2 separate regions of the Homo sapiens genome follow, and region 2 is linked to region 1. The links come from fine-mapping of genetic effects on gene expression. A gene starts in region 1. The other region holds a variant in brackets. All regions are shown on one strand. Distances are between the middles of the regions.

Region 1 (2,915 bases):
TACTCATGAGGCTGAGGCAGGAGAATCGCTTGAACCGGGGAGGTGGAGGTTGCAGTGAGCCAAGATTGCGCCACTGCACTCCAGCCTGGGCAACAGAGCAAGACTTCATCTCAAAGACAAAAACAAAATGACAACAACAAAACCCAAAAAGACAGACGATAACAAGCGTTGGTGAGGATGTGGAGAAATTGGATCCCTCATACTCTGCTGATAGGAATGTAAAAAACTGCAGCTGCTGTGAAATTCAGCTCCACATTCCCCCCAAAGGTGAAACATAGTTAACATATGACCTAGCAATTTTTACTCTTAGGTACATATTCGAGAGAAAGGAGAATATATATCCACATAAAACCTTGTACACAAATGTTCATGTGGCATTATTCATGATAGCCAAAAAAGAGAAACAACCCCAATGTCCATCAATGGATGAATGGATAGAAAAAAGTGGTCTATCCATGCAATGGAGTACTACTCAGCCGTAAAAAGGAATGAAGTATCAGCCGGGTGCAATGGCTCACGCCTGTAATCCTGACACTTTGGGAGGCCGAGGCAGGCAGATCACTTGAGTCCAGGAGTTTGAGACCAGCCTGGACAAAATAGTGAGACCCCGTCTCTTTAAAAAAAAAAATTGAATGAAGTATCAACACATGCTACAACATGGATGAGCATTGAAAACACGCTAAGTGCCACAAAGGACCACATATTATGTGATTCCATTTATATGAAATGTCCAGAATCGGCAAATCCATAGAGGCAGAAAGGAAATTGATGGGTGGGAAGGAGGAGGAACAGTGTTGGAAATGATGGTGAAGGAGTGTGGGATTCCTTTTGAGTCGATTAAAATATTCTAAAATTGATTGTGGGGATGGTTGCACAACTCTGGGAATAATCTGAAAATCATTAAATGGTACCCTTTAAATGGGTCAATTGTATGGTGTATAAATTATATCTCAGTAAGTTTCTTTTAGAAGAAACAAAAACCAAAAAGCAGGGCCTTCCTGACGTTGGTGAGGACCTAAAGTTATAACACATTTTCAAGCCTGGTCCTATTCCTCCCAAGCATGGTGACTCAGATGCCAGCATGATCACCAGGCGTGCCCTGAGATCCTCGCCTCCTCCCTGGGGATCCAGGGTGTTGCCCTGCGCTTTCCTACCTTCCCCAGGCACGCCCTGCCCTGCGCGCCCTGGCGGGCCTGAAGTAGAGCAGAAAGGAATCCCGCTTGTCCTGTGGCTTCTCTCTGCTGCAGCCTGGCACCGTTTCCTCTTGCCTGCTGCTGCTTCCTCCCTCCCGCCCAGCTGGCTGTGAGAGCACGTCTCAGATTCGAAAACCATGTGAGATTCAGAATGTGCACCTGAAGCTGCCCGCTGGGGCTTTCTGTGCTGTCGGCCACTGCAGAGATCTGGGTCCTCCCCAGATCCCACTTACCAAACGTAGGAAAAGATGATCACGTGGAAGAACCACTTAATGGTGCCATAATTCATGCTCTGGATCCGAGTGACTTTGTTCGTCTCATACTGGAAAACATCACTGCAGCTGCAGCAGGCCGGCATGGTGACAGCCTCCCTCCCTGCGCGGAGCTGGACCAGAGCTCTACTCTTCCTGACAGGGCCACAGCAAGCCCCCTCCCAGTAACTGCAAAATGAAACGTACTGGTTTTTAGCAGGAGTCTTTAACTTCAAGCTCCTCCAATGACTGCAGAGTTGGGGCGGGCCCTGGCAGTGGCCCCACATGTGGCTGTGATAAACAAGAAGCGCCAAGTCCTACGGGCCTGGCTGGCAGATGACCTCACCCCAGCTGGCCTCCCCCAGATGCCTACACAAAGATGGTGTTCAGAGGATGGGCATTTTTAGAATTCTCCCTTTTCCCCCCTTTCCTTTCACTTTTTTGGTCTCATGTCTCTTGGGAGAAAGGGGCAGCCTTGCAAATGTCACAAGACTGGGAGCTTCCATTATGCCTCAGAAAAGGACTGAGATCTTTCCATTGCCTGAAGCCCCACTCAGAGATTGATTCATTCATTTCTACAACCCTTTATTCAGCCCCTGATGTATAGGAGCTCTGGGTAAATGAAGATCTCCCCCTCTTCTTCCACCGCCCCTTATAATACTCTGGTCTGCAGTTGGTGGGGGAAATCAGATTTGCAGGGGTAGGGGTGGTGGGGGTGGAGGGGCTTTATTTTTCTGCCAGATCTTTCATGCTTGACCCTCTGAGTTACTCTCCACCCTCCTCTGCACCCCGGCAGGTCGATCTATGACCTAGACCAATCAGCCAAAGATCACCAGGGACACAGTGGCAGTCCAACAAAGTTAGGTTTGTTGACCTATTCAGTGAGGGACACCACCCACCAGAAGAGCTACGCACATCACCAAACAAAGGAAAACAGCAATTTATTATAGGATTCCGAGGAAAGTGGAGTTGAGATAAAATCTAAATGAAGTCATGTTTTGATGGACTCAAAGCAAAACAGGTTTGTACAAAGCAGTCAACTTCAGTCTGGATTGCAAAGAGGACCCAGGGCCCTGTTTCCTAGGAAGCAACATAGCTAAGATACATGTCAAATGTGTCCAGAAAATCTTTATCTGAAGCTCTGCTCCTGAGTTGTAAATTGAGGCTGCTTCTCTGTGTCAAGATGACTTAAATCTTCCAGGCAAAATTGGAATATTTCAGTCTTAGTCATGTAATTTCAAACAGCAAAGTTTCTGAAGGTCTCTGATTTTAAAGGACAATGTTTCAGCAGTCACTCAAAGATGCAGGGTTGTATTATCACTTTACAGCTACAGAGAATTATTGTTCCCTGTTATCTTTACAGCTGGCTTGATCCCTTTCTGTTATTCCAGCCTGCTAAGTGGCCGGGTAGATTTTCAGTTTTTCAGTCTAAACTAATTGTACTTTCTCACACATACAAACTGCATCAGGG
Region 2 (2,915 bases), 39 kb before region 1:
GTGTGGCCCCATCTCTTGGGAAAAGTATGTAATAAATTCTTCTTGGCCAGGTGCAATGGCTCACGCCTGTAATCCCAGCACTTTGGGAGGCCAAGGTAGGCAGATCACCTCAGGTCAGGAGTTTGAGACCAACCTGGCCAACATGATGAAACCCCATCTCTACTAAAAATACAAAAATTAGCTGGATGTGGTGGCAGACGCCTGTAATCCCAGCTACTCAGGAAGCTGAGGCAGGAGAATCACTTGAACCCAGGAGGCAGAGGTTGCAGTGAGCCGATATCACACCACTGCACTCCGGCCTGAGTGAGAGAGTAAGACTGCCTCTCAAACAAACAAACAAACAAACAAACAAAATATTCTTTGAGTGGCATTGACCTCTCTCTGTCATCACTCAGTACTAACTTTAAAAATTAAGCGCCAGGCACAAATCATCACAGTCACCCGTGATATGCAACCCTCACCAGTGCTGCAGTCAGGAAAAGTGGTGTGTTTTGTTTTTCAAGAATAATTAAGGAGGCTTAAAATGAACGCTTCATAAAACTTTTAAATCTGCCCCTTCTTCTCACCACACTTTGATGATTCTTTTTAGATAAAGTTACATATACATGTTTATTTTTTCTGAGTTATTAATTCACCGTCTAGTTACAAGATGTAGGGAGAGAAGAAAGCAGATGGCAGATGTTCTGCCAAAAAATAGTAAGAAACATCTGAAACTGTTTTTAAAAAACCTCTCAAAACCTGACATTGAAATCGATCAGATATTCTCAGGCACTTTAGTGGCTCTTTCTGACTGGAGGGAATTCAATTTCTTTGCATGTGACTATTTCAAGAGAGCTTTTTCTCTTGCTGATGTATTGAGTGATTTATCTTTGTTGTTGTTGTTTGTTTTTGTTTTTTTTGAGACAGGATCTGGCTCTGTCATCCAGGCTGGAGTGCAGTGGCTTGAACACAGCTCACTGTGGCCTCCGCCTCCCGGGCTCAAGTCATCCTCCCACTTCAGCCTCCCGGCAGCTGGGACTACAGGTGCAAACCATTACACCCGACTAATTTTTAAAATTTTTTTATAGAGATGATGGTCTCACTGTGTTGCCCAGGCTGGCTTGAACTCCTGAGCTCAAGTGATGCACCCACCTCAGCCTCCCAAATTGTTGGGATTATAGGCATGAGCCAACGTGCCCAGGCAGTGATTTGTTTTTTAATTCGCAAGCAAGCATGCATTGCCACTGCCTGCCCTGGGATTGGCATTATCTCCCTATGTGAGTTGGTTTGCCTGGGAAGGTTAACATTGTGTAGTAAGCACGTGAATTTCTGCTTCCAGAGTCTTGTTACAGTGGCTCTTAAACTGAAGGCAAGAATCACTTGGGGTGATGGCTGGGCGCAGTGGCTCACGCCTGTAATCCCAGCACTTTGGGAGGCCGAGGCAGGCAGATCACGAGGTCAGGAGATCGAGACCATCCTGGCTAACATGGTGAAACCCCGTCTGTACTAAAAATGCAAAAAATTAGCCGGGTGTGGTGGCGGGCACCTGTAGTCCCAGCTACTCGGGAGGCTGAGGCAAGAGAATCGTGTGAACCCGGGAGGCGGAGCTTGCAGTGAGCC[G/A]AGATCACGCCACTGCACTCCAGCCTGGGGGACAGAGCAAGACTCCATCTCAAAAAAAAAAAAAAAAAGAAAGAAAGAATCACTTGGGGTGAGTGTGTTCAGAGGCAGACTCCTGAGCCCCTCACTCAAAGAGTGGTTGCAGAAGCTCTGAGATGTTTCTAGGAGTCTGTATTTCCAGTACAGGTACCAAGTGATTATTCTGATGCAGGTAGTCAGTGGGCTATGCCCTGAGAAACATCGGGCCTTGAACAAGAGTGTTTTTCGTACACTGGAATGGGTTGAGCCCCCAAATAAGATATGTTCAAGTATCTAATCCCTAGTGGCTGTGATATGACCTTATTTGGAAATACAGTGTTTGCAGATATAATTAAGTTAAACATCTCAAGATGAGATTATCCTGGATTTAGGGTAAGCCCCAAATCCAATGACTAGTATCTTTATAAGATAAAGGAGAGATCAAATCGCTTGAGCCCGGGAGGCAGAGGTTGCAGTGACCCGAAATTACGCCATTGCACTTCAGTCTAGGAGACTGGAGTGAAACCCTGCCTCAAAAAAAAAAAAAAAAAAAAAAGAGATTGAAGACATAGAGACACAGTGGAGAAGGCCATGTGAGGATGGAGGCAGAGATTTGTGGGACGCTGCTATAAAGTTATGGAATGCCTGGAGCCACCAGACGCTGGAAGAGGCAAGAGAGGACCCTCCCGTAGAGCATCAGAGCGAGTGTGGCCCTGCTGACATCTTGATTCCAAACTTCTGGCTTCCAGAACTATAAGAAGATTAATTTCTGTTGTTTTAAGCCACCACATTTGTGGCAATTAGTCATAACAGCCACAGGAAATTAACACAGACACATACTCCTGCTGGGCCTGAGAAGCGCGTCGTGCATTCTGGGTGGCCTGATCCACTTCACACAGGTCGTGCATAAGCGGAATCACCTATTCACTGAATAAGGACATTTCGCCACAGGTCATTTTCTAAACAACAGAATTCTGTAATGTGATCAACTTCTTCAACTTCCTATGTTTTAGAAAGTTATATTTTCTGAAATACCTCGTATAACCTGTAATTTCCTTCTCTTTTGTGTGTCTGCTGGAAAATAACTTGTCCACTTACTCATCAGACCTCAACAATTTATTTATTTATTTAAGTTGTTTTTAAAGACAGAGCTTTGCTCTGTCGCCCAGGCTGGAGTGAAGTGGCATGACCCCGGCTCACTGCAACCTCCACCTTCCGGGTTCAAGCAGTTCTCCCTGCCTCAGCCTCCCAGTAGCTGTATTACAGGCACCTGTCACCACGTCCAGCTAATTTTTGTATTT

The links.
Region 2: its variant is fine-mapped to the expression of P2RX7 in whole blood (TOPMed, PIP above 0.99). The same link has a PIP of 0.9 or more in prefrontal cortex.

What each region holds. Positions count from the first base shown.
Region 1 is chr12:121,131,607-121,134,521 of GRCh38, reverse strand. P2RX7 (purinergic receptor P2X 7) reads right to left here and starts at 1,646. Exons shown (of 13, transcript NM_002562.6): 1 at 1,427-1,646. The coding sequence starts at 1,551. The region is part of intron 2 of LOC105370032 (a long non-coding RNA gene); the gene reads left to right.
Region 2 is chr12:121,170,615-121,173,529 of GRCh38, reverse strand. All of the region lies in intron 8 of P2RX7 (purinergic receptor P2X 7), which reads right to left. All of the region lies in intron 2 of LOC105370032 (a long non-coding RNA gene), which reads left to right. Among named protein-coding and RNA genes, the nearest start is that of P2RX4, 38 kb to the left of the region's middle. The variant G/A (reference allele first, on the strand shown) is at 1,600.